Regions from separate parts of the Homo sapiens genome. Here regions 1, 2, 3 and 4 are each linked to region 5. The links come from fine-mapping of genetic effects on plasma protein levels. A gene starts in region 5. Each other region holds a variant in brackets. All regions are shown on one strand. Distances are from middle to middle. Region 1 has its middle 21 kb from the start of PSG11-AS1. Region 2 has its middle 5.9 kb from the start of LINC03078. Region 3 holds the start of LINC03078 (long intergenic non-protein coding RNA 3078). Region 4 has its middle 19 kb from the start of CD177. Region 5 holds the start of CD177 (CD177 molecule).

Region 1 (5,983 bases), 220 kb after region 5:
TATATCTATAAATGGAATTGTTGAGCCATAGGGTAGTTATTAAAAGTAGTTGCACCATTTTATATTCTCACCTCAATACATGAGCATTCCAATTGCTCCACATCCTCATCAAAACTTAGTATTGTCAGTCGTTTTAACTGTAGCCATTCTAATGGGTAGGAGTATCTCATGGTTTCACTTTTTATTTCCTTGATAACTAATAATATCGAGCAACTTTTCCTGTGATTGCTAGCTATTTGCATTTCCTTTTTTGGGAGATTTTTGTCCAAATAATTTGCTCATTTTCTATTTTTTTTTTTTTTGCGTGTGTTTTTGTTTTATTTTTGTCTTTTTATGTTGAGTTTTAGAATTCCTTTACATATTCTGAACACAAATACTTGGTTTCAAAGTCAGTGAATTGCCTTTTCATCTATCTTGAAGAGCAGATGTATTTTTGATGAAGCACAATTTATGATTTTTTAATGTTTAGTGCCAGGTATTTGTAGAAGGAGTCTTTGTCTACCTTTGCTTTATTGTAAAAGCTTCAAAATTTTAGATTTTATGTTCAGGTCAAATCTCAGTTGATCTTAATTTAATGCTTGTGCAGAGTATGGAGTAAGGGATCAAAGTTCATTTTTATCCATATAGGTATCCAGTTTTTCCAATTCCATGTGTTGAAAAAGACTATTCTTTTCCCATTGACTTGCATTATCAACTTTGTTTAAAATGAATGGACTGCGTAAGTGGCAGGAAGTTTTGTTTTGTTTTTTTTTTAAATATAATTGAGCCTTTAAAAAGGCCAATCTTTGTTAAAAGTTAAACAAAAGTTAAAAGTGATGATGACAAAGTCCTAACTGGCTGTCCTTGTGGCTTCAAAGCAGATGATGGAACAGTGGAGCGAGTTTAGCATGGAAGGGTGAAGGAAGCTTTAGGGACATTCATCATTACATCTCAGGGGAAAGCTGAGACTTTCTTTATACCCGGAGATATATGTCAGCCAATTCTGTTCAGGTTGCATAGCCTCTGATGCCAGTTTCTGAGCGTTACCTATTACATCTGTCAGAGACATTTGAACAAGAGCAACTCCATCTTGAATAAAGGCTGGGTAAAATGAGGCTGAGACCTACTGGGCTGCATTCCCAGACACTTAAGGCATTCTAAGTCACAGGATGAGACAGGAGGTCGGCACAAGATACAGGTCATGAAGACCTTGCTGATAAAACAGGTTGCACAGAAGCCAGTGGAACTCCACCAAAACCAAGAAGACAACGGGAGTGACCTCTAGTCATCCTCACTACTACCTTCCCACCAGAGCCATGACAGTTTACAAATGCCATGGCAACATCAGGAAGTTACCATATATGGACTAAAAGGGGGAGGTATGAATAATCCACCCCTTGTTTAGCATATCGTCAAGAAATAACCATAAAAATGGGCAAGCAGCAGCCCTCACGGCTGCTCTGTCTATGGAGTAGCCATTCTTTTATTCCTTTACTTTCTTCATAAACTTGCTTTCACTTTATGGACTCGACCTGAATTCTTTCTTGGTGAGATCCAAGAACCCTCTCTTGGGGTCTGTATCCAGACCCCTTTCCTATAACACATCCACACTAATTATTTTATTTTTGGCAAAATAATGTTAGAGCCAGTAACGTCTGAGAGGCCAACGTTCCATGGCCTCTCGCATATGAGGAAGGGCCGTTTACAGAGGGACTAAATGAGTCACCCAGTGTCACCTTGTCAGTGTGTGCCAGAGCAGAACTGTGCCCAAGTTAGAGAGTGGCCTCCCCTCTACTCAAGCATGTTCCAGAATGTGTGTTTTGCATACTGTTTGTCCCACAAGATGGCCTGAGCAGGGGCTGTGCAGGTCTGGGATGTGGGGTGCTATGCTATTCTCCTGGAAATACTCTAAGCTTTTCAGCATGGTTAAGGATTTGAGAAGTGTCCAACACAGAACACTGTTTGATTTTGTTTAACTCAGCTTCCCCAATCTCATTTCATCACGGAAGCCTTTTATCAAGTAGCTTGTATTAACTTGCTTCAAAACATTCCCCAAGAGATGTGGATCTAGCACACTATGGGGCAGGTCATGTTAGTTTTCTCTTGTCGTTATTCTTGTTATCTGGATGGCAAACATTTACATGGGCTATCAATACTAGGTTGTGTTGGCCGCCATGAATCTAAAACCCCTGGTAGGTTTTGGTATTTCCTAAAGATGATTTACTTAGACTCCTATAGCAGAGTAAAATGAGAAGGAAAGATAGAAATAGCCAGTGTTTTGGTGAGGACTGACATAATGATTTTTTAAAAATGCACCTGATTCTGCATTCTGAATCCTCCAGCCTCCTCAGCATGGGGATGGAGAACTGGAATGGGGCAAGACACACACATGCACATGCACACACACACAAGCAGACACACACCCACAGAAATAGTCCTCTGAGGATTCATTTAAGATTGGCTTAGAAGAGCTTTAGAAAAAAAATGTGAACCTTTCTGAAACTCTCAATGCCTCATAATTAATCTTTGTTGAAATAACATTTTCAAGACCCTTTTTAGGAGCCTGCTCCCAGTCTCCATCATTCCTCCAGCCAATGAGTGCTGGTTAAAGTGAATGAGATCAAATTGCCAGTTAAGAATCTAAATGAAGGCTATTGATTTACTCCATTGCAATGAACAGGTTATCCCCAGAAGGTGGACTCTGAAATGCTTCATTGAATTCCACAAATAAATAAGGGAATTTCTCCCCACCACTGTAATCCCTCAAGTGCCAGTGTCTGCAGGGATATTTTCTTTTACAGCATACTAAATGAAAATCTATCAGGAGATTGAAATTGGCACTAATAAGTGAGCATTTCTCACCTCTATCACCTTGGGCTTGGGGAATGCCCTTGATACGTTCGATTCCTCCCCTTACATGGGGTTTGCGTGGGAAGTCTCTATTACTTAAATTGTATCTTTTCCATATGTCATTATTTAAGTGACCACTTTCCTCAAAATAAAGACTGAGAACCACCATTAGAAGTATGCTGTTATGAGCTGAGTTGAGGCCCCCTCTCCCATACCATACACTGAAGTGCTAGCCCCCAAGACCTCAGAATGTGACTGTATTTGTAGGTAGGGCCTTTAAAGAAGTGATTAAGGCAAAGGAGTCCAATCTTTTGGCTTCCCTGGGCCACAATGGAAGAAGAAGAATTGTTGTGGGCCAAACATAAAATACACTAACAATAGCTGATGAGCGAAAAA[A/T]CAGGTCCGTGTATAAATCTCATGTTTTAAAAAAGTATGAATTTGTGTTGGGCAACATTCAAAGCTGTCCTGGGCTGCATGTGGCCCTAGGGCTGCAGAATGGACAAGATTGGATTAAGGTAAAACAAGGTCACTAGAGTGGGCCCTAATCCAACAGGACTGGTGTCCTTATAAGAAGAGGAGATGAGGACATAGACCTACACAGAGAGGAACCACCATGGGAGAACACAGGGAGAAGACAGCATCTCCAAGCCCAGGAGAGAGGCCTCAGGAGGAACCAGCCCCGCTCACACCTTGTCTCAGATTTCCAGCCTCCAGGACTGCGAGAGAATCAATGTCTGTGGTAAGCGGCCCGGTCTGTGGCACTTTGTTATGTCAGTCCGGGCAAACCCATACAGATAGATGCTTATGAAATCTTCCCAGTTACATTTCAAGCAGCCCTTTTTACCCATTTCATTTGGTGGCTGGCCGAGCGGAGTACCTTTTAGTTCCCATAACTCTAGAACGGAGTTCCATCAGTGCCTCTGTTGCTGCCTCGTTCCAGTCAAGCTTATTTCTCTGGTACCGCTTGCCTTGTCTTCCAAGCCTGACCCAGTTTTTCCCCAGGACATCTTTACACAGACCAGCTGCTCCAACATTCCCACTGCTGACTTCACTCTCTTACTCCCTGGATGAGTCGGAGCCTCTCATGCCACCTTTAGTGATCATGTAACTTGGCCTTTGTGATCTTGTGACTGGGCAGAGTAACTTGGCTAGGATGCAAAATAGCCTGATTTTTTTGGATACAATTATGTACAGTACCTTGCCAATAATTTGAATTTTCTTGTCTCTATTAAGATATCTGTACTCAGTAATACATGTTTATGAGTTTTACCCTGGATAAAAAATGAGCCATTATCTTCCTCCTTGCAATATATAGACTATATTATTATTCTATATATAGACTATATATAGTAGTACAGAAAGACTATATTATCATTTGATGTATAGTCTAGACTATGTATCTTGTATATGTCTATATATTTTATTGAATGATAATATTATCTATCAGTACTAGACTATATATCAAATAATAATAAAGTCTATGAGTTTGCTAGGACAATATACAGACTATATCATTCTATATATAAACTATATGTAGAATAACATAGTCTAGACAATATATAAACAGTATATAAACTTTATATAAAATATATATAAACTATATATAGAATAATATAGTCTATATATAATCTATATAAGCTATATATAGAATAATATAGTCTATATATAATCTATATAAGCTATATATAGAATAATATAGTCTATATATAATCTATATAAGCTATATATAGAATAATATAGTCTATGTATAATCTATATAAACTATATATAGAAAAATAGTCTATATATAGAAAATAATATATTCTATATATAATCTATATAAGACTATATTGTAGTCTATAGTCTATATATAGACTATAATGTAGTCTATAGTCTATATATAGACTATAATGTAGTCTAGTCTATATATAGACTATAATGTAGTCTATAGTCTATATATAGACTATAATGTAGTCTATAGTCTATATATAGAATAACTATATTCTATATATTCTAAATATATAGGATATATTCTATATATATTATATATTCTCTTTACATGTATTCTCCTTTACATATATTCTCTCTATATTCTCATATATATGTGTGTGTATACACACACACACACACACACATAATGTCTTCCTGCTCTGCAAATGAAGTGTGAAAAAGTTATCTTAGGATAAGCTCAGAAAAATCAGAGAAATATTAGAAGACACCTGTTACATGGTAGGTTCTGCAGCAAAGGTTTACTTATTCGGTTGTTAGCAGGCAGCACTTGAGCCAACTTCCGCAGGTGTCAGTTTTCAGTGTTGGCTCGTGGCCACAGTTTTATCCTGGAGCAGCAGGCTCACCTGGGAGACCTGCTGGTAACCGGGCATAGGGGAGCAGGGCTGCGATGGGAGAATGAGCTGAATCTGCCGGGAATGGTTGTGGCATGAGATGCTGTGCAAGCTAAACACAGTGTGTCACTCATGTGCATGGTTTGGGTATCGTGGATGCCTGAGGGAATGCAATGAGAGGTTTCCAGGAAACCAATAAAAATATGAAGTCAAACTCCAGCTGGTGAGCATTGGCAGGATAATTAAGTTTCCTGAGGAAAGATTTCTTCCTAAGGGAAGATTTAGGTATCAAAATCCCAGTCATTGTAGACAGTACCACGGGACAGAATCCAATCCTAGAGGAGAGAGAATCCCACGTTTCCTTCTCAGACACACCAGGGTTCCCCAACCTTGATGCTATTGACATTTAAAAAGATTATTCTTTGCTGTGGGACACTGTCTGTGCACCATCAGCACTACTGACACTTAACAAGATCATTCTTGGCTGTGGGATGGGGTCTATGCAACATGGGATGTGCAGTATCATCCCTGGCCTCTTCCCACTAGATGCCAGTTGCACCCACTCCCAATGGTGGAAACCAGCAACGCCTCTAGATATTACCAAATGTTCACAGGTGGTAGGAGGGTGTGCATCACCCTGGATGGAGACCCATGGAGTGAGAGCAACCGCATGGGGGCCACGCAGAATCTCAGCACCATGGACAAAATCAAGAAAGGCACGCTGGGTGGATGATGGGTGCCACTTCCCAAACTGCAAAGGTGATGCTGGATATCTGGCACACTGTCAGAAGGATCTGAGGGCACGATTCTGCAGGGAAGAATTGAACGATCCA
Region 2 (5,983 bases), 16 kb after region 5:
AAGGAAGAGAAGAGAAAAGAAAAGAAAAGAAGGAAGGAAAGACAGAAGGTACCCATTGGTAGAGAGACAAAGACAGAGACAGACAGGGAGACACAGAGATGAAAAGACACAAAGTGAACCACAGACACACAGTGAAGAGGAGACAGAGCCAGAAACAGAGACCTAGTGTGGTGGAAAGAGAGAGAGGCAGACAGACAAGAGCAGCATCTTCAGGGCGACTGGATGCCCCACGCCCCTGAGCTGCTCCACAGGGAGGGGGCTGAGCACACAGCCTGCATCCCATCCATCATTTCTTGGCCTTCATGACTGGGTGACCGTGCACAATCCAGTCCCCGTCTCTGAGCCTCAGTTTCCACACTGTAAACCAGGCATAGATACACCTCCTCAAAGGGTGGTGGAGAGGGCTGGGCTGGCTGTTTCTGCTTAATGCCCCCTCATGTTTCACAAAGGACCCCATGAACTGTGATGAAAGTCACTGTTCATTATCATGACGGCTTCCAGTACTTACAGCAGTCAGCACTAATGTCATGCACATCATCAGCACTTGGCATGAATCCCCATTCATTACAGATCAGTATTAATTGAGTCAATGCTCTGTGCCCGATACTTGTACACTCATAACATGGATTGTTAATTTAATTGAGACAACCACAGTCTGAGGTCAGTGATATCACGATCATCTCCACTTTCCAGACAGGAAGCTCTGCTGGTAAGGTGCAGAGCTGGGGTTCAAACCCAGGTGGTCTGGCTCCAGGGCCAGGTGTGCCCGGGAGCAGGGCTCTTCCTGGGTGTCCAAGGCCACCTTGTCTCCAGGAGTGTAACCGTGTTTCCAGCCACTGAAAACTTGGATTAAAGCCCAGACAAGGTAACGTTTGCCTTTTCTGGCTTTGGGGTTTAGAGTTTGAATTGAGAGACATTCTCCAGGAAAGCAGAAACTTCTTGGCTAAAATCCAAACCTTCTAGGGAATTTATTGCAGAGATGGGGAGGTGGTTCTCATTTCTGCCCTTCTCAGAGTATAGATTCATTAACTCAGGAGATGCAAAAGGTTACATTTTCCATATTCCTTTTCTCAACATGATAATATTATACCCCTTTCTGCCTAGTTTTATGCTTCTTTTGCTCTTGGTGCCAAAGAAACTGTAAACCTTTGTCTTAAAACTGGAGTCCCTTCCAACTGCTGGTGACAGAAATCCCAGCAAGATAAGAAGGAGCAAATGTCCCCGCTTCCCAGACAACTTGAGATATAAGCAGATCCTATTCATCATCCTACAATGTTCTTGCAAAGATTATTTCTATCAATGGAGCTCTGTAAAACACCCAGACTCCAGAGACCATCACTTGGTCCTGTGAAGGTAGCTCTTAGCCTTCAAAAATCTGAAATTCAGATGAATTGCCTAAGTTACATGTATTAATCCATTGCCCAGGGCATACTATGTAACTAGACAACTCCGTTTTCTGGAAGATGTACATACTTATGACATTTGTTTGTTAGTCTGGAAAACTGCCTTTCAGGGAGGGAATGCTTTTCCTCTATCCACTTAGGTTCAGTATCTGGAGGCCTGTGAATTAAACTAACAAAAGACCAATTAACAACAGAAAGGGCAGAGAATTTTTATTACATGCATGGGAGTTCACAGAAAAGAAAAAATGAAACGGCTAGACTTGTGGGGCTTATATACCATTTTAACAAAGGAAAGGGGCTTGTTCTTCAAAGGGTGATACATCATGGGACAGTGACCCGGAAATACCTGGGGCACTGATGGAGATGCAGGTTCTGTTAGTGAGGTCGGTCTATGCATACTCATCTCAGTGTGGACTCGCCATCTCCAGGATGAGTTGCTTTTCTTAATGGTCTGGGGAGGAAACACCTTCCCAAAAGGAAATATATGCCCTGCTTCTAGGTAGATAAGGAGAGGGCAGTGCTCTTCCAGCATCTGTTGATTCTCAATGGCCTTCAGCTCAAAACAATCCTTATACCAACGTGGTACATTTTGGGGTGACTTAACTTGATCCCTTTCAGGCCACTGATGAGTCCATCTTTCCCCACCCAGGTGGACACAGGAAGAACCTGTGATGGATGGATTTCTTATTCAATGGATGGATTTCTTACTTAAATGTAGGGGCTCTTTAAGAATCATTCATTAATTCACTGTGCACTCCCTGAGCTCCTGCTCTGTGCCAAGCCCTATGCTGAATGATACTAAGACCCCAAAATGAATGAGACCCATCCCCGCTCTCAGGGACTTCTCATTCCCAGGAAGGGCAGACAGAAAAGGGTGCTCAGGCCCATAAGAGGGTGTGGTGACAATGACTGTGGCTAGGCTGAACGACACCTCTCAGAACTCTCTTCCCTGTAGGTTCCTGTTAGGGTGGGAGCGGGACACACCTGCCCAAAGCAGCCGCCGTTGTGCATTTCATGCTGGGGAAATCCAGGCAGGAGCTTCCGTGGCTCAGGTCCAGGTGTTGCTCATCTGCTAGCTCGGCTGGTCAGCCTGGAGCAGCAGCAGGACCTGAAACTGCTCCACCTTTACCCCAATCCTCCTTCAGTTTCTCCACCTCCTGAGCCAGGTGTGCGTTGACCTCTGTGACAAAGGTCACTCCTGCAGGTCCCCTGCACCACCAAGATGAGGCAGCAAGAATAGAGGCAGGTTCTGTGGGTCCCGAAACCTTCCACCTTGTGTGGGCTCCTGGCTTGTCCTTACTCCCCACTTTCCATCCATCTCCCCTTCCCCAGGGCCTGCCCTGCAGACTTGGAGCTCAGGTCAGATGCAGAGCCCACAGCCTCCTCACAGACTTCCATCAGCCAGAGATGGGATCCTGACACATTCCACCAGCGCCAAGTGGAGAGATATTTAGGTATTTAGGGGTCTGAATGAGGGGCAAACTGGCCCACCTGGAGCGGCAGGGAAGGTTTCCTAGAGGAATTCCTGCTATTCCTCACTGCGCTTCCAAATTTTAGTCGTGTTCCACTTTTACGATCTGAATAGCACTTGCACTGCTATTTACTCAAAAATTTTCCTTAAAGCAACTCACTGTTTTTCTTTGGCCTCATCTTAAAACAATAATGTTTATCCAATCATGTGATTAATATGCTATTTTCAATTATTTTTCTCTAATAGG[C/T]GCTTAATCACAAGCATAGCCTGTAACGCTTTTTAACAACTGTCGTGTGTAACCCCTTAGAATCATCTCACATGCCCTCAGCCACTGACACCTGAACCCTATTTTGGGAAACACTCCTTTAGGTGAATTTTGAAGGATGAACAGAGGTTTACATGGAACCAAATGGAGAAAGGGGATTTTGTACTGAGAGAGCAGGTTAAGAAGTTTCCTAGAAGATGTGACAGAAGCTGCATTAGTTATCCATTGTTGCCTAGCAAATTACCCCAGGGCTTCAGGGCTTAAAACAGCAACAGATATTTGTTACCTCTCAAATTCTGTGGGGCAGGAATTGAAGAGTGTTTGTTTTCAGCTTTTTATTATGAAGCTGGGTGATTGTGACTTGGTGAGTCTCATGAGGTTGGAGTAAAGAAGCCAGTCAGGGTGCAGTCATCTGCAGCTTTACTGGGCCTGAAGGGTCTGCTTTCTAGGAAGGTCACTCGCAGGGCTGACAATGTGATGCTGGCTAGTTCCTACCTCAGGGCCTTTGCACTTGCTGTTCCTGTGCCTGGGGTGTCTTTCATCTACTCTTTGTATAACTAGACCCTTCCCATCCTTGATGTCTTTGCACCAATGCCACCATCCATGACCTCTGATGCCACCAAGTTACTTTCTTACACATCATCCTTTGTTTTCAACTTTTTATTATGAAAATTTCAAACATCCAGAAAAGCGGAAAAAATAATACCAAGAATACCCGCATCCTCTCCTTATATTCAAGTTTAACATTTTGCCATATTTCCTCGTTTTTTTCTGAACTGTGTCAGAGTAAATTGCAGGCATCAAGGCACTGTGTCCTTGAGTGACACTATGTCCTTGAGTGCTTTAGCGTGCCTCTCCCCAGAGTGACTGGCCCACAATCCCATGATCACACCTGAGAAAATAAACAATAACTCCCTAACCCTATCTAATATATAGTCCTTTTTCAGTCTTCCCCTTTGGTCTCCAAAATGATTTTTCCATCTGTATTTATTTATTTAATTTATTTTGAGACAGAATCTTGTTCTGTCATCCAGGCTGGAGTGCAGTGACAGGATCTCAGCTTACTGCAACCTCCACCTCCCAGGCTCAACTGATCTTCCTGCCTCAGTCTTTAGAGTAGCTGGGACTATAGGTGTGTGCCACCACGCCTGGCTATCCATGTGTATTTTTAAAACTGGAATCCAATCAAGACTTATGCCTTATATTTGGTTATTATATCTCTTACATTCTACAATAGTTCACCCGCCTATTCATTTTTTTGTGACTGCTAAAGACAGCATGCCCAAAGTGAAGTCAACTCATGCTAAAGTTCCACATGCTTTTTTTTGTTTGTTTGTTTGTTTTTGTTTTTTGAGATGGAGTCTCACTCTGTCGCCCAGGCTGGAGTGCAGTGGCACGATCTTGGCTCACTGCAAACTCTGCCTCGGGGGTTCAAGCGATGCATTTTTTTAATCCTTTGTTCTGAATGCAATAATGACTAAAAGATTTTCACAGAAACTTCACAAAATAAGATATACGAATAGCTAATATGCACAGAAAAAAACTACTCAACATCATCAGTCATCAGGGAAATGCAAATTAAAATCACAATCAAATGTTGCAACCCACCAACCAAATTCCTGAAAGTAGAAAGACAAGACCCCAAATGTTGATGAGGATATATGGAGCAACCAGAACTCTCATATACTGTTGTTGAGAATGTAAAATGATGCAACCACTTTGGGAAAAGTCTGTCCCTTTCTTATACAAGTAAACATATACCTACTCCATAACCCAGCAATTTCATTCCTAGGTATTTTACCCAAAATGAATGAAACATGTGATCATAACAAGACACATACAAAGATGTTATTTTGTTTTATTATTATTATTTTGTAGAGATGAGATTTCATCATGTCTCCCAGGCTGGTCTTGAACTCTTGGCCTTAAGGGATCAGTGCCTCCTTGGCCTCCCAAAGTGCTGGGATTACAGGCATGAGCTACTGTGCCCATCCAAAACATACACAAAGTTATTTTTAAAAGCAGATTTATTCATAATAATAATGGTCCAAAACTGAGGAAATATTAAAACAAAATACCCATCAATAGGAGGATGAATAAGCCAGATGTGGTATATTCACACTGCTGAATATTATGTTGCTATAAAAAGTAATAAACAAGGCCGGGCCCGGTGGCTCATGCCTGTAATCCCAGCACTTTGGCAGGCCGAGGCGGGTGGATCACGAGGTCAGGAGATTGAGACCATCCTGGCTAACAAGGTGAAATCCCATCTCTACTAAAAATATTTAAAAAAAAAAATTTATCCAGGTGTGGTGGCGGGCGCTTGTGGTCCCAGCTACTTGGGAGGCTGAGGCAGGAGAATGGCATGAACCCGGGAGGCGGAGCTTGCAGTGAGCAGAGATCATGCCACTGCACTCCAGCCTAGGCGACAGAGCGAGACTCTGTCTCAAAAAAAAAAAAAGTAATAAACTACTGATAGAGGCAACAAAATACTTCATTCTCAAAAACATTTTGCTGAGCAAAAGAAAATTTAACCCACAGGAAAACGTACACATTGTATGATTCTATTTATATGGAATTCTTCTACAGACAACATTAATTTATGATGAAAACTCAGCACGATGGTTGCCTCTGGAGGTGGGACTGGGCATGAGGATTGGCTGGGAAGGAACTCACTGGGGCAACAGGAACTGTGTGTGTCTTGGAAGGGGTTGCATGGGTGTATGCACTTATTTGTCAAAACTCATCAAAAGGTACACTACAACTTTGTGCATTTTACTTTATGTAAATTTCACCTAAGATAGAAACAAATATTAAACTCTAGTTAATGACGTTAGTGCTGGG
Region 3 (5,983 bases), 22 kb after region 5:
TATTAACCTCCTTATGTTAACTTTACATCTTTCTATTAAATTCTTGCATTGATTAGTTTTTCACTATGTCTGGAATTTCCTAGATATATAATCACATATTGGTTGTGAATTGGTATAGCTTATTCTCCCTCTTTCTAAGTCTTATATCTCTATTCGTATCTGTACCCCAATTTCATTGGCCAATGCCTCCAGTACAATATTGAGTAACAGCAGTGACAGTGGGCATCAGACAGGGACACAGTTGACCTGGAGGCAGCACCCCCAGTGCTGTGATGGAGGAACACAGGGCATTCTGGGGACCACCTACCTCCCAGGCTGGCATCCTCTCTCTAAAGCCCCCAGAGATACCTCCCTGAGCCCTTCCTTTGAAACCTTGGGGACAGGTGGCTCCTTCTAAGGCAGCCCATCCTCCTGGTGGACAGTTCTCTTGAATCTCGACCTGCTGTTCTCTGGATAACTCCTGTCCTCTCCCTGGGCTCATCTTGCACTGCATGGAGTTGGGCAGCCTGGGGACCTGCAGTGAACAGGACCTGGGGTGACCTGACCCTGCAGTCTGGAGGTCAGATCCCACTTCTGCCCAGGGGTCAGGGCCAGCTCATACCATGCAGACCCTGGTCAGTGTCCCTGGGGCAGCCCCTGACAAGGCCACAAGTCTCCTCTTGCCCTCCAGGGGGCGACATCACACACAGATAACACTCAGGAAATGGATTCCCCTGGACAGGAACCTGGCTTTGCTAAGGAGGTAGAGGTGGAGCCTGGTTTCCAGCCCTTGCCCCAAATGACCCTTCTGGTCCCTGCCATGTGCCTGCTCCTTCATGGTGCCTGCTCTGCCAAGGGTTTTTGTGCAGCTCCCCACTTCCTCCTGGCATCACCCATGGGGAAGGTGTGGTAGCCACAGGACACACACACACACACACACACACACACACACACACACAGACAGACACAGTCTTTCTATCTCTCTCGCCCCCCCAACCACCTGCAAGGTTAAGGGGTGAACATAGGGAGAACATGGACAGGCCCTGAGCCACAGCTCAGCCAACAGACACAGAAAGGGAGGGTCTCCATGAAGCCTTCCCCAAGGACAGCAGGGCTCAGAGCCACCCACCTCCCTCCACCACAGTCCTCTCTACCCAGGACACACAGGACAACTTCCTCCACACCCTGGAGCTGGAGCTCCACCTGAGTCCAGCCTGGGTCTCTTTGGGTCAGAGGCCAGGCTGGTGACACTGGAGACAGAGGGCTGGTCCCTCCCCAGTCATCCCCCAGTGAGCTCCTTTCTATCCCCCAGAGCCACCTCTGTCACCTTCCTGCTGGGCATCATCCCACCTTCCCAAGCACTAAAGAGCATGGGGAGACCTGGCCAGCTGGGTTTCTGCATCACAAAGAAAGAATTCCCCAGGTTTGGATCCCCAGGGTTCTGTGTGTGGAGCTGACAGACCTGAGGCCAGGAGATAGCAGAGGTCAGCCCTGGGGAGGGCGGGTCATCCTCCCAGGGGACAGGGTTGCACCAGCCTTGCTACTGAAAGGGCCTCCCCAGGACAGCGCCATCAGCCCCACCTGAGAGCTTTGCTAAACAGCAGTCAGAGGAGGCCATGGCAGTGGCTGAGCTCCTGCTCCAGGCCCCAACAGACCAGACCAACAGCACAATGCAGTCCTTCCCCAATGTCACAGGTCACCAAAGGAAAACTGAGCTGCTACCTGACCTTCGAAAGATAATAGCCGATTTCCCAAACAGGCCAGTTTCAATCGCATGACAATGACCTCCCCTCTGCTCTCACCGTTTCTAAAACAGGAACCTGATTCTCCCCCATCAGAGATTTCTCCCTTGTTCCATGAGCCTTTCCCGAGTGGCCCTGTTTTTTGTGTTTGCTTTCCGCAGCCCTCCCCTCTCTATTAAACCCGCGCTTCTGCTCAGCTCCTTGACCCACGTATTGTCTCATGGGATGAAGTCTCGCCCGATTTTAGGACGGCAAATAAAGCCACTTGAAGTCTTTATCTGTGCTAGTTTGTCCTGTGACAGCTCTGTGTATCTGTATGTGTACATGTGTCTCAGTTTCAATGAATCTGAGTATATATGTGTGTGTGTCTGTATATGTGAGTGTTTGCCTCTATGTCTGTATATATGTGTATATGTGTTTGCCTGTATGTCTGTATATATGTGTGTCTGTGTTTGTGTCATGTCTGTGTGTATGTGTGTGTGCATCTCTGTGTGTGTCTCTGTGTGTGTCTCTGTGTGTGTATATGTGTGTGTGTGTGGACAAGTGTGGAAGGAGAGCCATATCTGAAGAAGGCAAATGGCCTCAGCAGGTCCTAAGGACCAAACACACACAGAAGGGAAGGGGAAGCAGGAACCAGAAGGCAGGACTGAGAGGGGAGGGGACAGAGAAGCATCCTGGGCAGAGTCCCGCCCCTGCCCCTGGCCCTAGGAAGTGCTCCTGCCCTGAGAGAAGGCTCAGCACAGAGGGAGGAAAGACAGCAGAACTGGCAGTCACAGTAGCTCTGATCATCCTGGAGCTAAGCTCCTCTCCACAGAAGAGAAGCAGGCAGCAGAGACCATGAGGCCCCCCTCAGCCCCTCCCCGCAGAGGATGCATCCCCTGGCAGGGGCTCCTGCTCACAGGTGAGGGAGGACTCCCTGGGAGAGGGTGGGAGGAGGAAGCACAGAGACTGGCTGGTGTCTCCTGGGGAGGACGGAGCTTTGAGAGGGGATAGAAGGCTTCTGTTGAAGCCTGAATAGGGGAGAGGACATCAGAGAGGGACAGGAGTCACAGCAGGAAAATTACATTGAACTGGAATTGGAAAGGGGCAGGAAAACCTCAATTGCTCCGTGTTTCTAAGGCAGTAATCAGTGGCCACTAAATATTGAAAAATGATAAGGAAAGCAACCATTTATGTCACCATGGCACTGCAGAAAACAAACCTTCCCAGGGACTCCTGGGAAACCCCCTGCCTGGTCTGAGACCCGCTCTGAGGAAGCAGAGGGTAGGCTTGGGCCCAAGAGAGGCCGACCATGCCACAGGTGGGGGCAAAGGGGTGCTC[C/T]GGGGGAACTTACAGCCCAGGCAGGCTTGGGTAGCAGCAACGCAAGGAAGGCCCCCTACGTGCTCTGCACGCCTCTCTGGCATTTGATATCATGAAAAGAAAAGGAGAGGGAGAAAAGGGAGAGAAAAGGAAAAGAACATTCTTGGCATGTGGAGCCATCTATCGCTTTCTTAGTCCGTTTACTCTCTACTTAAAGGAAGCCTCTCCCTGCTACAATCTGGGTAACATCCATAAGAGGCGGGGATGTCCTGGGCAGCAGCAGCCATCTGGGGTCCTGAGTGTTCTCTCCCTTGGCCACCTCCTCCACCTCACTTCAAGGTCCCTGTTCAGAACACATTTCCACAACAGCACAAACGCTGTCCTCACCTGCCTACCTCAGACATTGGCAAATAAACTAATGTTTCTCATGGTTTAACACCATCTTCCTTGGTGCTGTCATTATGATAGTGAGTTCTCATGAGATCCAGTTTTCTGAAAGTGTGTAGGAAAGCATGTGGTAGAAAAGAAAAGCCCATGTTCAGGGGAGGAATTCAAGCAGGCTGCAGAAATTTGCATAAGTAAAGGGAGCGAAGTGCTAATAGCCAAAACAATAAGGAGAAGGCCTTAAAGGCATTTCAGAGACCTTTGCAGCAGCCCTTCCCATCACAGGACCAGAGGCCTAGGAGGACAGAATAAATTTTGGGCCAGGCCCAGGGCTCTGCTGCCCTGTGCAGCCTCAGGACACTGCTCACTGCATCCCAGCTGCTCTAGTCATGGCTCAAAAGGGTCAAGGTACAGCTCGGCCTGTTGCTTCAGAAGGTACATGTCATAAAGCTTGGCAGCTTCCATGTGGTGGTAACCCTGCAGGTGCACAAAGTGCAACAGTTTAGGCTTGGGAGCCTACATTTCAGAGGATATATAGAAAAGCCTGAATGTCCAGGCAGAAGCCTGCTACAAGGGCAGTGCCCTCATGAAGAACCTCTACTAGGGCAGTATAGAAGCAAAATGTGGGGTAAGTGTCTCCACACAGTTTTCACTGGGCCAGGAGCTGGGAGAAGATACCCACCATCCTCAAGACCCTGGAATGGAAGAGCCACTGGCAGCTTGCACACTGCACCTGGAAAAGCCATAGGCACGCAATGCCGGCCCATGAGAGTAGCCATGAGGGTTGAGCCCTGCAAAGCCACAGGAGTAGAGCTTCTCAGGGCCTTGGGAGTCTAACCCTTGCATCAGTGTGCCCTAAATGTGAGATATGGGGTCAAAGGAGATTATTTTGGAGCTTTAGTTTTAAAGACTGTGCTGCTGGGTGTCAGACTTGCATGGGGCCTGTATCTTATTTCTTTTGGCTTATTTCTACCTTTTGGAATTGGAGTATTTACCCAATGCCTAAATCCCCATTGTATCTTGGAAGTAAATAACTTGTTTCTGATTTCACAGGCTCATGGGCAAAAGGGACTTGCCTTGTCTCAGAAGAGACTTGGGACTTTGGACTTTACTGGTAATGCTGGAAAGAGGTAATGGACTGTTGGAAAACCATTGTTACATTTTGAAATGTGAGAAATGTCAGGCCTCTGAGCCCAAGCCAAGCCATCGCATCCCCTGTGACTTGCATGTATATGCCCAGATGGCCTGAAGTAACTGAAGAATCACAAAAGAAGTGAAAAGGCCCTGCCCCGCCTTATCTGATGACATTCCACCATTGTGATTTGTTCTTGCCCCACCTTAACTGAGTGATTAACCCTGTGAATTTCCTTTTCCTGGCTCAGAAGCTCCCCCACTGAGCACCTTGTGACCCCCGCCCCTGCCCACCAGAGAACAACCCCCTTTGACTGTAATTTTCCATTACCTTCCCAAATCCTACAAAACGGCCCCACCCCTATCTCCCTTTGCTGACTCTCTTTTCGGACTCAGCCCACCTGCACCCAGGTGAAATAAACAACCATGTTGCTCACACAAAGCCTGTTTGGTGGTCTCTTCACATGGACGCGCATGAAATTTGGTGCCATGACTCGGATCGGGGGACCTCCCTTGGGAGATCAATCCCCTGTCCTCCTGTTCTTTGCTCCGTGAGAAAGATCCACCTACAACCTCAGGTCCTCAGACCGACCAGCCCAAGGAACATCTCACCAATTTTAAATCAGGTAAGCGGTCTCTTCTTACTCTCTTCTCCAACCTCTCTCACTGTCCCTCAACCACTTTCTCCTTTCCACTCTTCAATCTCTCCCTTCTCTTAATTTCAATTCCTTTCATTTTCTGGGAGAGACAAAGGAGACATGTTTTATCCGTGGACCCAAAACTCCGGCGCCGGTCACAGACTGGGAAGGCAGCTTTCCCTTGGTGTTTAATCATTGCAGGGACGCCTCTCTGATTATTCACCCACGTTTCAAAGGTGTCAGACCACGCAGGGACGCCTGTCTTGGTCCTTCACCCTTAGCGGCAAGTCCCGCTTTTCTGGGGAAGGGGCAAGTACCCCAACCCCTTCTCTCCTTGTCTCTACCCCTTCTCTGCTTTTCTGGGGAAGGGGCAAGTACCCCAACCCTTCTCTCCTTGTCTCTACCCCTTCTCTGCTTTTCCGGGGGTGGGGCAAGTACCCCAACCCCTTCTCTCCTTCTCTCCACCCCTTCTCTGCTTTCCTGGGGCAGGGGCAAGTACCACTCAACCCCTTCTCCTTCACCCTTAGCGGTAAGTCCCGCTTTCCTAGGGGGCAAGAACCCCCCAATCGCTTATTTCCATGCCCCAACCTCTTATCTCTGCGCCCCAATCGCTTATTTCCATGCCCCAACCTCTTATCTCTGTGCCCCAATTGCTTATTTCCGCGCCCCAACCTGTTATCTCTGTGCCCCAATCCCTTACTTCCATGCCCCAACCTCTTATGTCTGCACCCCAATCCCTTATTTCCATGCTCCGACCCTTTCTCTGCTTTTCTGGTGGGCAAGAAACCCCCACCCCTTCTCCATGTCTCT
Region 4 (5,983 bases), 19 kb before region 5:
TGAGCAGCCCTCCAGGGTGGCATCGGTTCTGCAGGTCGCATGTGTTGGTGGAAGCTGGGGGCTCAGTCTAAGAGTCCCTGCATCATGGGACCGATCCCCCCTGCTCTGTGATGGCCGTGAGGGGAGGCCAGGGGCTGTGGTTTCACACTAGAGCCTTGAGGGCCTCGGGGCCAAGGTAGCCGAGGATGGTCTTCAGTACCTGTCTCCCTCCTGCTCCCAACCCCGACCCTGAGGGTCCAGAGTCCCTGGGTTCCCAGCCTACCTCTGCCACTCACAAGCTGTGTGGCATGGGCAGCTACTGAGCAATCCTGCCTCTGTTTCCCTTGTTGCAAATGAGGGTGTTGATTGTGATCACACCACCTACTGCTGGGGTGCTGTGGGGAAATGAGGCATCCCAGATAAGCTGTGTTCCCTGGAACCTTAGATGGGTGGATCTGTGGGAAGCAATGAGGTCAGCCAGGTGCAGAGGCAGTGCTCAGCGGCAGTGCTCAGCCCACCCTGGCCCTTCGCATCTTGTTTGGAACATAGGGCTTTGCAACTGAAAGGTATGAGAAAGGTCTCAGGCTGCCTTCCTTATTATTGAAATGAGGACCTTAAAGCTCAGATGGGGAAGCAGAGATGGGCAGAGGCTCAGGAAGAGCTTCCATTGCTCTCACAGCTGAAGCAAGGAATGGCTGTTCTCACAGGGCTGTGAGAGGACGTCCCTGCGGGTGTTCAAGCAGAAACAGGGAACAATGGGGGTGGGGTTTGGACTCCCAAGTCCCTTCTGAATCCGTGGTTGAGGGACTCCGTGGCCAGGTCACCTGGAGTGTGACTCAAGAGCATGATCACCTTCCCTAGCCCAGGACGTGGAGGGACAGACATGGTGGGTTCCTGGCTTACACAGACCCTGGGTTTCCTCTCCCCAGATGTTCTGACCTGTCATCGGGGGACCACCTTGAAGAAGCAGGAAAACTTGAGTAAAGAACCCACTGATTGGGCCACATCTAATACCGAGACGTGCGAGGTGGGGCAGGTGTGTCAGGAGATGCTGCTGCTCATAGATGTAGGTACGTGGACTGAGGTAGAAGACGAACACCTGTCCCAAGTCCCTGGCAGCTCCCTCCACCCCACTGGATTCTTTCCCCTGAATTTCCTGCTCAGCTCCCTTCACATCTGCAATTTTCAATCCGACTCTTCTTCTCTCTGCATCTTGGGTTCCCCTTATGAAAACTGGGGGTGAAGCAGTGGGAATGACAGTGTCTGCCTTTCTGGGGAGGGGTGACCACGTATGCGGTAATCCCTGCCCAGGGTGGAGAACCGTGCCAACACCGAGGACTCTCAGTGGCTTCATACATTCTGGAAATGTTTATCCAGCATTTGTTTTAGGTGCCGCAGATCCAATCCCATCTGTATTCCTGCAGCTTTATATGCCTTGAGAAACAGGAAACAAACAAACAAAAAGCAGCAAAGTATGGGGAATGGAGATCCCAGCTCTGGAGAGAAATCTGGCAAGGAAAAGGAGATAGGAAAAGTGAGGGGAAGGCTGCAATTTTAAGCTCAGTGCTCAGGGGAGACTCATGGAGAAGGTGACGTTTGAGCGAGAACTGGGAGGAGGCAGAGCTTCGGGCAGGACCCAGGCCCCAGCCTCCGTCTTTGCCCCACACTAAACATGACCCAGCAGTTGTGATCAGGGCATTCACCCTCTGCCTGGGGGGTATTGTGAAGGGCAGGGAGTCCAGCTCTGGAGCCCCTGCTGCCCTGGGAGCTGCCCAGTCCCCAGCCCAGCTTTCCCTCTCACCCTCAGGACTCACATCAACCCTGGTGGCGACCTAAAGCTGCAGCGCTGTTGGGGCTCAAAATTCCCAGAAGACCACCATCCACTCAGCCCCTCCTGGGGTGCTTGTGGCCTCCTATACCCACTTCTGCTCCTCGGACCTGTGCAATAGTGCCAGCAGCAGCAGCGTTCTGCTGAACTCCCTCCCTCCTCAAGGTATGGGATCCAGGGCCGTGGAGAAATGAGGCCCAGACACACAGAGACTCTGGCCCAAGGTGGGCAGCTGCTCTGAGCACAAAGTCATGTACCCCCACCTTCCCTCTGCTCCCCAGCTGCCCCTGTCCCAGGAGACCGGCAGTGTCCTACCTGTGTGCAGCCCCTTGGAACCTGTTCAAGTGGCTCCCCCCGAATGACCTGCCCCAGGGGCGCCACTCATTGTTATGATGGGTACATTCATCTCTCAGGAGGTGAGTGCTGCAAGCAGGGCCCCAAGGATGAAGGCGCTGGTGTCCTGGGCTCCTGGGACTGAGGGAGAAGGGGCTGGGGGCCTGGACTCCTGGGTCTGAGGTAGGAGGGGCTGGGGGTCTGAGCTCCTGCGTTTGAGGGAGGAGGGTCTGGGGCCTGGACTCCTGGGTTTATGAATTTGGCTGGGCTGTACTCTGTGTCCTTTCTGACTTGGTCTTCTCCCTCTAGGTGGGCTGACCACCAGAATGAGCATTCAGGGCTGTGTGGCCCAACCTTCCAGCTCCTTGTTGAACCACACCAGACAAATTGGGATCTTCTCTGTGTGTGAGAAGGGTGATGAGCCGCCTCCTGCCTCTCAGCATGAGGGAGGTGGGGCTGGGGGCCTGGAGTGTCTCACTTGGGGGGTGGGGCTGGCACTGGCCCCAGCGCTGTGGTGGGGAGCGGTTTGCCCTTCCTGCTAACTCCATTTCCCCCACGATTCTTCACCGCTGCTCACCACCACACTCAACCGTCCCTTGTGCTTGTAACCTAATGGCCTTGGACACCAGATTATTTCCCCATCCTGTCCATGAATCATCTTCCCCACACATAATCATTCATATCTACTCACCTAATAGCAACACTGGGGAGAGCCTGGAGCAGCCGGACTTGCCCTGTGGGAGAGGGGACACTGGAGGAGTGGCTGCATGTGTCTGATAATAAAGACCCTGTGCTTTCTCCCAGTGCTGGGATTTCTCCATGTAAGGGGACAGCAGGACGCCCAGGGATCTAGCATGGTGGAGGAGAGGAACCTAATGAGAAAATGGCCATCCAAAGCCTGCCCTTCATTGGTCTGGTTCATGTCTCCAAACCAGCTTGGATGGTAGCAGAGACTTCAGGGTGCTCCAGCCAAACGTATTTGGGCATCACCATGACCTGGGAGGGGAAGATGCACTGAGATGTATGAGGCTTCCAGCCTAGCAGCCAGGGCCCTAGCACAAACAGGGGGCTGGCCCCATCTGAGCGACTGCAGGAGAGGTTAGTATAGTCATGCATTGCTT[T/A]ACGACAGGGACGTGTCGTTAGAAATGTGTCGTTAGGTGATTTTATCACGAAAGGAACATTGTAGAGTGCACTTACACCAACCCAGATGGTACAGCCCAATACACACCCAGGATGGATGGTAGAGTTGACTGCTCCTAGGCTACAAGCCTGCAGTGCATGTTATGGTGTGAATACTGCAGGCATCGTAACACCACGGCAAGTATTTGTGCATCTATACACATCTAAACATAGAAAAGGTACAGCATAAATACACTATTGTCATCTCAGGAGACCACCGTTCTATACGCAATTCGTCACTGACCCAAACGTTGCTATGTAGCATCTGCCTATTGTGGGATAATTGACATAAGGGCTAAAGAGAACTCCAGAAAAAAATGGGTTAGCATTTTCCCAGAGCTGTTACCATTGGGTATCTCTTACCACCATAGCCCAAAAAGGGTGAGGAGAAGAGCCACTGCTGGAATCTGCAGACAGAGAGAGAGAGAGAGAGAGAGACATAGACAGAAAGAGACAGAGAGAGCTGGAGAGAGAGCCGGAGACAGAAAGAGAGAGATATTCAGAGAGGGTTGCCTAACAAGAGCTCCCATCTCAGGCTGAAAAACGCGTCCAGCCCGCAATGATACTGGGGAGGGAAGTGGGGAACTAAAATTCCAAACTGATGTCCTCACTCTGGTCTCCAGTTGAGGTTCCCCATTGACTGAACCCCCTAGAGGCCACAGAAGCAGGAGACTCCACTGGTCCAGCCCCCATAGATCTGCCATTCACAGTAGAGAACAGAGGAGAGGAAAGGGAAGAGGAGAAGAGAGTGAATCTGGAGAAGGAAACAGAACACGTCTAGCACCGTTCACTCCCTTGCCCCTCGGCATCCACCCTTTCCCTTTGTCCAGATGAAAATCAGAGTCCAGGACAGGCTCGGTGGCTCACGCCTGTAATGCCAGCACTTTGGGAAGCTGAGGTGGGAGGATCACTCGAGCCCAGGAGTTTGAGACCAGCCTGGGCAACATAGTGAAACTGCTTCTCTACAAAAAATACAAAAAATTAGCCGGGTGTGGTGGTGCGTGCCTGTCTGTAGTCCCAGTACTTTGGGAGGCCGAGGCGGGCAGATCATGAGGTCAGGAGATTGAGACCATCCTGGCTAATACCGTGAAATCCAGTCTCCACTAAGACAACAAAAAATTAGCCGGGTGTGGTGGTGCACGCCTGTGGTCCCAGCTACTGAGAAGGCTGAGTCCAGAAGGTCAAGGCTGCAGTGAGCCAAGACTGCACCACTGCACTCCAGCCTGGGGGACAGAGCGAGACCCTGTCTCAAGGGGGAAAAAATAATCAGAGTCCTCCGTACAGACGACACACAATTCCAGTCCTTCCCTCTGTCACAGTAACAGTGTGTGATGGTGACAGTGATGTCCTCCTCCCATTGTGCTGTGCACCAGTTCTTCGCCCACAATGAGAGGAAGATGGGGAAGAGATGGCTTCCAATACAGCTGCTGAGGTCCTGGGGGCGGGGCTGCTGGTGCTCAGAGCTGCTTTCTTCCAGTACATTCCACATTGTCCTCCCACCTCCAAAACCTCCTTTGGATGTTATTTGTTACCTGCAGTGTAACCCAAATCTTGATTCTTATGGAGAGTGAGTCTTGGATGGCCTTGTCTTTAGTGGGTTTCTATAGTTTTCCATGGAACAGGGCCCTGGCCAAGGAAATGTTACCGCCATGAGTTGCCTGCCTTCGAAAATAGCCTCCTTGTCCCAGCCACCCGACCTCCCTCTGTAATCAGATGCCATTCCCCCGACTGCAGAGTGACGTCTCCTTTGCCTGCTGTTTTGGCAGCACAAGGGGCACAGGATGGCTGGAGGGCTGTCATGGCTTCCTGCAGATCAGAACTAGGAAGAGATTCCTCATCCACAGCAGCCCAGGGCCACGGGGACAAAGAGCAAGCATTCTCTCAGTGGGCTGGCAGGTGCAGTCACGGGAGGGAGCCGCGCTTATTCTTCCTGTCTTTCCTGGATCTTTGCATCTGGCCCTGGGGCGCGTGACCCGATAGCCTGGTTGCTGGTTTATAAGATGTGTGGCCCCTCCTGTGGGTGGTGGGGTACGGTCTCCCTCCCGGTGCCCTGATAAGCCACACATGAGCCATTGCGCCAATCTGAGAAGCAGCTGTGTCTGTATAGAGGGGCACCTGAGACGGTCAGTGGGTTCCATGGGTGTGAGTTAATTACCCCCCATTCTTTGCGTTAACACGTGTCCCCAGTGGAAGCAACCCTGCATGGGTTCCAGAGCCACAGGAAAGGCGCTGTTCACAGAAGCACTGAGCAGGGTCCAGGGAAGGCCAACTGGAACCCCCAGTGTGTGCGTATCCGTGTGAGGACAAAGCCCAGTCCCCTCCAGGATGGGACGTGTCCTGTGTGGCCAGCCTATCTGCAGTGGCCGGGTAGTCCTCCTGTAAAATGACGCCTTCCAGGGGCTTAGCCCCGGGCTCTGCCTACACTGGGCAGGGCTGGGTACAGTGTGCAGCCAGGCCAGTGCTGGGAGACTCAGTCCACTTGTGGTAAGGTACGTCGCCGTCCTCCCTATCCATGTGGCCATCTGCACCTGGACCCCCTGAACAAGCTCTGAGGGACAGAGTCTGCCTGACACCATCCACCAAACACCAAGAACCTCATCCCCACAGCACAGGTTCTGGGCTTAAGGGTGGGGACGGCATAGCTCACACTTTGTGCCCATCCCC
Region 5 (5,983 bases):
GCTGCCTCCAGGACCACCCAACCCTCAGAGGCAGGCATAGCTCCAGGAAGCCAGGCCCACCCTCCTCTGGGTCTCATGCCGTGCCTCAGCTCACCTCACTCCCCAAAGCCTAAGATCTCAGTCCCCAGACCTTCCAGTTCAGTCCCCACAGGGACCCCGATGTCCCAGGCTTACCTCCCCTGAGCCTGAGGAGGCCATCATAACAGTGTGTGGTCCCCTTGGGGCAGATCTCTTCTGTTGTCCCCTCCAGACAGCCTTCCATAGACAAGCAGACTGGGCACCTCAAGGATCCTGGGTCTAGGAAAGTGACAGACAGAGTGAGGGGGCACTGAGAGGGCACTGGATTTGATCAGATACCTTCTCTGCACCCCACTTTTGCTGGCCTCAAGAGTCAACCTGCTCAGCCTTCCCAAAGGGGCCTTCTGCAGCTCCCATCATGGGATCTGGATGTGGGAAAATAAAGAAGTGTAATCCATAAAAGAGGAAGGGAGAATGAACAGGAGGTCTGGGTAGAGGCACCCAGGGCTGGGTACAGAAAGTGGTCTTGGCTGGGTGTGGTGACTCACACCTGTAATCCCAGCACTTTGGGAGGCTGAGGCAGGTGGATCACGAGGTCAGGAGTTCAAGACCAGCCTGGGCAACATAGTGAAACCCTGTCTCTACTAAAAATACAAAAATTAGCCGGGCGTGGTGGCAGGCTCCTCTAGTCCCTGCTACGTGGGAGGCTGACGCAGGAGAATCGCTTGAACCCGGGAGTCGGAGGTTGCAGTGAGCCGAGATTGCGCCACTGCACTCCAGCCTGGTCGACACAGCGAGACGCTTTCTCAGAAAAAAAAAAAAAAAAAAAAAAAAAGAAAAGAAAAGGGGGGGTGTCTTGGGTGGCAAGTGGGGGTGGGGGGTGGGCAGGGTGGAGGAGGGGCCTGCTGAGGCCAAATGTAGACTCAGACATGGTCAAGTCTGAACCTTTCAACAAAGTCTGGCCTTCCGAGGGGAGACACAGAAGCAGACTCATTGGTCAAGGGAATGAGGGGGTGCCCTGGAACGAGCCAGTGCCTTCACCTGCAAGCGCTACTAAACCTCCAAGAACAGGAGACTTCTGTGTTCACAAGCTGTTCCAATAAAAGAAGCGCAAAATATCTCCCTAGACTCTTTATAACACCAGACAAGGAAAGTGGAAAGTTACAGTTCAGTCTCCCTTAGGAAGAGGAAATAGCAAAAACCCTGCAGGAGAACTTCTTGAACCAAACGCAACAGAATAAAAAAAGAATGCAGGATAACCCAGTTAATGGTGATTTCATATCAGAAATCCGTCCTGTTTGCTCTTAGAAGAGGAGGGGTGCGGGGATTCCCGGGTGGCAGGTCGGTGGGAGGGATCGGGAGTGAGTGGGGAGGGATGGAAAGGGAGCGGGGCGGGGCGATGGTCAGGGAGCAGTCAGGGGAGGGATGGAGCCAGCGAGGGTCGGGATAGCGAGCGAGGGTGGGAGGGACTCCGTAACAGCCCCTCTGTGCTCAGCGGATCCCCTTCTAGCAGCCCCTCCCTCTCCTCCCGACCCTCCCGCAGGCACCTGCTGGGGGCTGTGGGGCCCAAAGCGGGAGGGAGTTAACGAGGTTGTTGCAGAAGTCCTCCTGGCGGCACACGAAGGTGTAGGAGATCAGGGAGAGGCCGGGGCCCATCCGGTGCTCAGTGACGCGGGGCTCCTGGTCCTTGGCCTCCGTGCAGCCCTTGGAGAGCACCAGGCTCACTTGGGGTCCTGGACCGAAAGAGGGAGGCAAGCGAGGATGGAGGTCAGGCCTCCAGGGTCCTGGAGGGAGACGCTGCTACACGGCGTAGGCTGAGAGGCTGGAAAGGGGATCACCGGGACCCTAGGAGTCGATCCCCCGGAGGGGTGGCTCCCGGGTCCCTGCACAGGGATCAAGGGACTGAGGGGACAGGGCGGGGTCTCTGCACGCCAGGGCCTTCTCACCGCTCTCAATGAGCATCAACGTGTCCTGGCACCCCAAGCCGCTGTCGCAGCTGGTGTTCTTAGGGGTCCATTGCCGGGGCAGGTCGGACACCTTCCACACATGCTGAACTGTCCCAAACTGGCAGAGCAGCGCCTGCACTCCTGGAGTGGCAAGAGCAAATCCATCTCAGCAGGGTTCCCTTGCCCGGCCTCCAGGGAATCTCCTCCAGGCTGGGCTCATCACTCACCTGGCAGTGGGAGGATGAACCCCAGGAGGGCCAGCAGTAATACCGCGCTCATGACCCGTCTGTGGCTGGTAATCTCTTTCTGCTTTTTCAGCAGGAAACAAGTCCTTTATACCAGCCCTTAAGCAGCCAGCCCAGAAAAGGGTGGGGAGGGGAGGGCCTTGCAAAATGGAGGCTTGGGCCCCACCCCAAGTCTCAATGGCCGCAGTGGCCTATCAGGGACCCCCTTTCTTCCTCAGACCTTCGGGTCCAGGCATCCAGCCCCTCCTCCCTCAGATGGAGGGTCCAGGACCCCCAGCCCCTCAGCCCCTCCTCCTTCAGACCCAGGAGTCCAGACCCCCAGCCCCTCCGCCCTCAGACCCAGGAGTCCAGGCCCCCAGTCCCTCCTCCCTCAGACCCAGGAGTCCAGGCCCCCAGTGCCTCCTCCCTCAGACCCAGGAGTCCAGCCCCCCAGCCCCTCCTCCCTCAGACCCAGGAGTCCAGGCCCCAGGCCTCCCTCTCTCAGACCCAGGAGTCCAGGCCCCGAGGCCCTCCTCCCTCCGACCCAGGAGTCCAGACCCCCAGGCCCTCCTCCCTCAGACCCAGGAGTCCAGGCCCCCAGGCCCTCCATAGTTAGAAACTGTGGCATCTTGACCCGAGGTTCCCCCGGTCCAGACTCCCAGCCCTCTTTCCTCCTGAGCCCAGCTATGTGGATCACCACCCCCACCCTCTTTCTCCAGTAGTTTGGGAAGGCAGTTTCCTCATTTCTCATGGGCTCCCTGGCCACCTCTGTACCCCAGATGGGGAAATGGCCCAACTACCTGTGAGGACGTTGTGCAGTGGGCATCAGCTTGTCCCCATGTCTTCCGGTCCTAGTTTCTACCCTCCACTGTCTTCCCACTTCTCTGTTCTTTCTCTTTCCTTCTTATATTGCTTTCTTTTGATTCTTCTTTTCATGCTTTTCTCTCATGCTTTCTCTTCTATTCTCTACCCTCACAGTACAACATAGGACTCAAGTCCCCAGTTTCCTACCACCAGGAAAGGCTTGGCCAGAGGTGGAGTAGAGACTGAATATCTATGAAAGAATTAGGATATATCTGAAAAATGCAACATTTATTTGCTGGAAGCCGATGGGAGAGCAGTGTTGTGCTGAAAAACCAAGTTTTCTGAAAAACAATACCCACAAATCCTGCCTCGTAGTGTTGGCCTATTTCTCTGGTGTAAATACTCATAGCATGTCTGATTTTAAGCTACCTACAGTTTGCCAACCAGGCTGATGAAATCCCTAGCTATTTAACCATGGGCTTGTCCAGGGCTGTACAAATCAGCTGTAACACACTGGGGTGGCGGGGAGGAAGACAGGAAGGAACCTGGGGTATCTGTCAGTGACTGCAGAGGGACGTTGTGGGTGTCTGTGACGGAGAGAGGAGAAGCAGAAGAGGGAAGGCGAGAGCAGGAATAGCAGAGAAAGAGAAATGAATGTGACTTGCAATTATATGTTTATTTTTGACATCTCTATAAATTTTATCTTTATTTGTCTTTGCAAGTTTATTGCAAGTTTAATATTTGCCACACAGACAGGGAAGTGTTTGTCTGATCTCCTGCTATGTCTCCACCACCTACATGGCATACAGTACATGCCCAGTAATTTTTTTTTTTTTTTAGAAACAGAGTCTTGCTCTCACCTATGCTGGAGTACAGTGGTGCAGTTGTAGCTCACTGCAGGTCACTACAGCCTCCATCTCCTGGACTCAAGCAACTCTCCCACCTCAGCCTCCCGAGTAACTGGGACTACAGGTGCACACCACCATGTCTGGTTAATTTTTGTATTTTCAATAGAGACAGGGTTTCACTATGTTGTTCAGGCTGGTCTCAAACTCCTGACCTGCGGTGTTTTCATTTTGAAAAATTTCAGGCTGGGAGCGGTGACTCATACCAGTCATCCTAGCACTTTGGGAAGCCAAGGCGGGTGGATCTATTGAAGTCAGGAGATTGAAACCAACCTGGACAACACGGTGAAACCCCATCTCTACTTAAAAAAAAAATACAAAAATTAGCCCGGTGTAGTGGCAGCCACCTGTAGTCCCAGCTACTCCGGAGACTGAGACAGGAGAATCGCTTGAACCCAAGAGGCAGAGGTTGCAGTGAGCCGAGATCGCACCACTGCACTCCAGCCTGGGCAACAGAGTAAGACTCCATCTCAAAAAAAAAGACGGAAAAATTTCAAACCGGCAGAAAAGTTGCAAGGATAGTACAGTGAACACAAGTATCCCCTTCACTGGATTCACCCACTCTTCACATTTTATTGTATCTGTTTATACACACACAACATATGCTTTTAAAATATTCTTAAATTTTAAAAACAAGGAGTAGACATTGTAACTCTCACCACTAAGTGCTTCAGCAAGAACCTTCTTAAGATTATTCTTAAGGGGGCTGGGCACAGTGACTCACACCTGTAATCCCAGCACTTTGGAAGGATCACTTTAAGTCAGGAGTTCAAGACCAGCCTGGCCAACATGGTGAAACCCCATCTCTACTAAAAATATAAAAATTAGCTGGACATGGTGACACACAACTGTAATCCCAGCTACTTGGGAGGCTGAGGCAGGAGAATCACTTGAAGCTGGTGGTGGAGGTTGCAGCAGTGAGCCGAGATCACACCACTGCACTCCAGCCTGGGTGACAGAGCCAGGCTCCATCACAAAAAATAAATAAATAAAAAAATTTTTAAAAAGCATATATCATTCTTTTTTTTCCTCTCTCTCTCTTTTTTTTTAGATGCAGTTTTGCTCTCTCACCCAAGCTGGAGTGAAGTGTCGTGATCTCTGCTCACTGCAACCTCCGCCCTCCAGGTTCAAGCAATTCTCCTGTCCCAGCCTCCCGAGTAGCTGGGATTACAGGCGCCTGCCACCACGTCCGGCTAATTTTTGTATTTATAGTAGAGACAGGGTTTCACCATGTTGACCAGGCTGGTCCTGAGCTCTTGACCTCAGGTGATCCACCTGCCTCGGCCTCCCAAAGTGCTAGGATTACAGGTGTGAGCCACCACGCCCAGCCTATATAGATTATTCTTAAGGACTTTGTCCTGCGTAACCACAGACCAGGATCAGACCCGTGTAGTTTACACAGATGCACTGTTGTCTAATAGGAAGCCCATTTCCAGTTTTCCTCTGTTGTCCCAATGACATCTCTCATTGCGTTTTTGCTTTCTGATCAGGAGAACATCCGGGGTCAAGCATGAACTGCACTGCGTTGTCTTTATGAAAGAGAAACAAAAACTCAGGACCCCAATTCACTGTGACAGAAGGAAAAAAAAAAAACTGGAAGCTGAGTCATGCAAGAAACTGCCTTTCCTTTTGTTCCTAAGCAGACAGCTACAGAGAAAAGGTTAAGTATCTCCGTAGGTAGCTACTCTATGTTCATCTTATCTTTCTTTAAAAAAATTTTTACTTATTTATTTTTTTTTGAGAGAGTATCATACTTTGTCTCCCAAGCTGGGGCGCAGTGGCACGATCTTGGCTCACTGCGACCTCTGTCTCCCGGGCTCAAGTCATTCTGTCACCTCAGCCTCCCGTGTAGCTGGGACTACAGGCACCCACCACCGCGCCCAGCTAATTTTTGTGGTTTTTTTTGTAGAGATGGGTTTTGCCATGTTGTCCATGCTGGTCTCAAGTTCCTGGGCTCATGAGATCCTCCCACCTCAGCCTTTCAAAGTGCTGGGATTACAGGTGTGAGCCACCACGCCCGGCCATATTCACCTTATCTTTCTCAAGGTGCCAATTTACTGAGCGTGAGATGAATACGTGATTGATT

Evidence for each region. PIP is the chance, under the fine-mapping model, that this variant and not a neighbour inherited with it causes the effect. Protein levels are from the aptamer-based SomaScan assay of Sun 2018.
Region 1: its variant is fine-mapped to the plasma level of the CD177 protein (Sun 2018, PIP 0.95).
Region 2: its variant is fine-mapped to the plasma level of the CD177 protein (Sun 2018, PIP 0.95).
Region 3: its variant is fine-mapped to the plasma level of the CD177 protein (Sun 2018, PIP 0.95).
Region 4: its variant is fine-mapped to the plasma level of the CD177 protein (Sun 2018, PIP 0.95).

What each region holds. Positions count from the first base shown.
Region 1 is chr19:43,130,780-43,136,762 of GRCh38, reverse strand. No RefSeq gene overlaps it. Among named protein-coding and RNA genes, the nearest start is that of PSG11-AS1, 21 kb to the left of the region's middle. The variant A/T (reference allele first, on the strand shown) is at 3,226.
Region 2 is chr19:43,334,377-43,340,359 of GRCh38, reverse strand. No RefSeq gene overlaps it. Among named protein-coding and RNA genes, the nearest start is that of LINC03078, 5.9 kb to the right of the region's middle. The variant C/T (reference allele first, on the strand shown) is at 3,122.
Region 3 is chr19:43,327,983-43,333,965 of GRCh38, reverse strand. It overlaps LINC03078 (long intergenic non-protein coding RNA 3078), which reads left to right and starts at 2,458. Exons shown (of 2, transcript NR_186343.1): 1 at 2,458-2,622; 2 at 4,458-4,977. The variant C/T (reference allele first, on the strand shown) is at 3,042.
Region 4 is chr19:43,369,441-43,375,423 of GRCh38, reverse strand. It overlaps the pseudogene CD177P1. Among named protein-coding and RNA genes, the nearest start is that of CD177, 19 kb to the right of the region's middle. The variant T/A (reference allele first, on the strand shown) is at 3,262.
Region 5 is chr19:43,349,975-43,355,957 of GRCh38, reverse strand. It overlaps CD177 (CD177 molecule), which reads right to left and starts at 2,272. Exons shown (of 9, transcript NM_020406.4): 1 at 2,192-2,272; 2 at 1,965-2,105; 3 at 1,566-1,751; 4 at 175-297. The coding sequence starts at 2,243.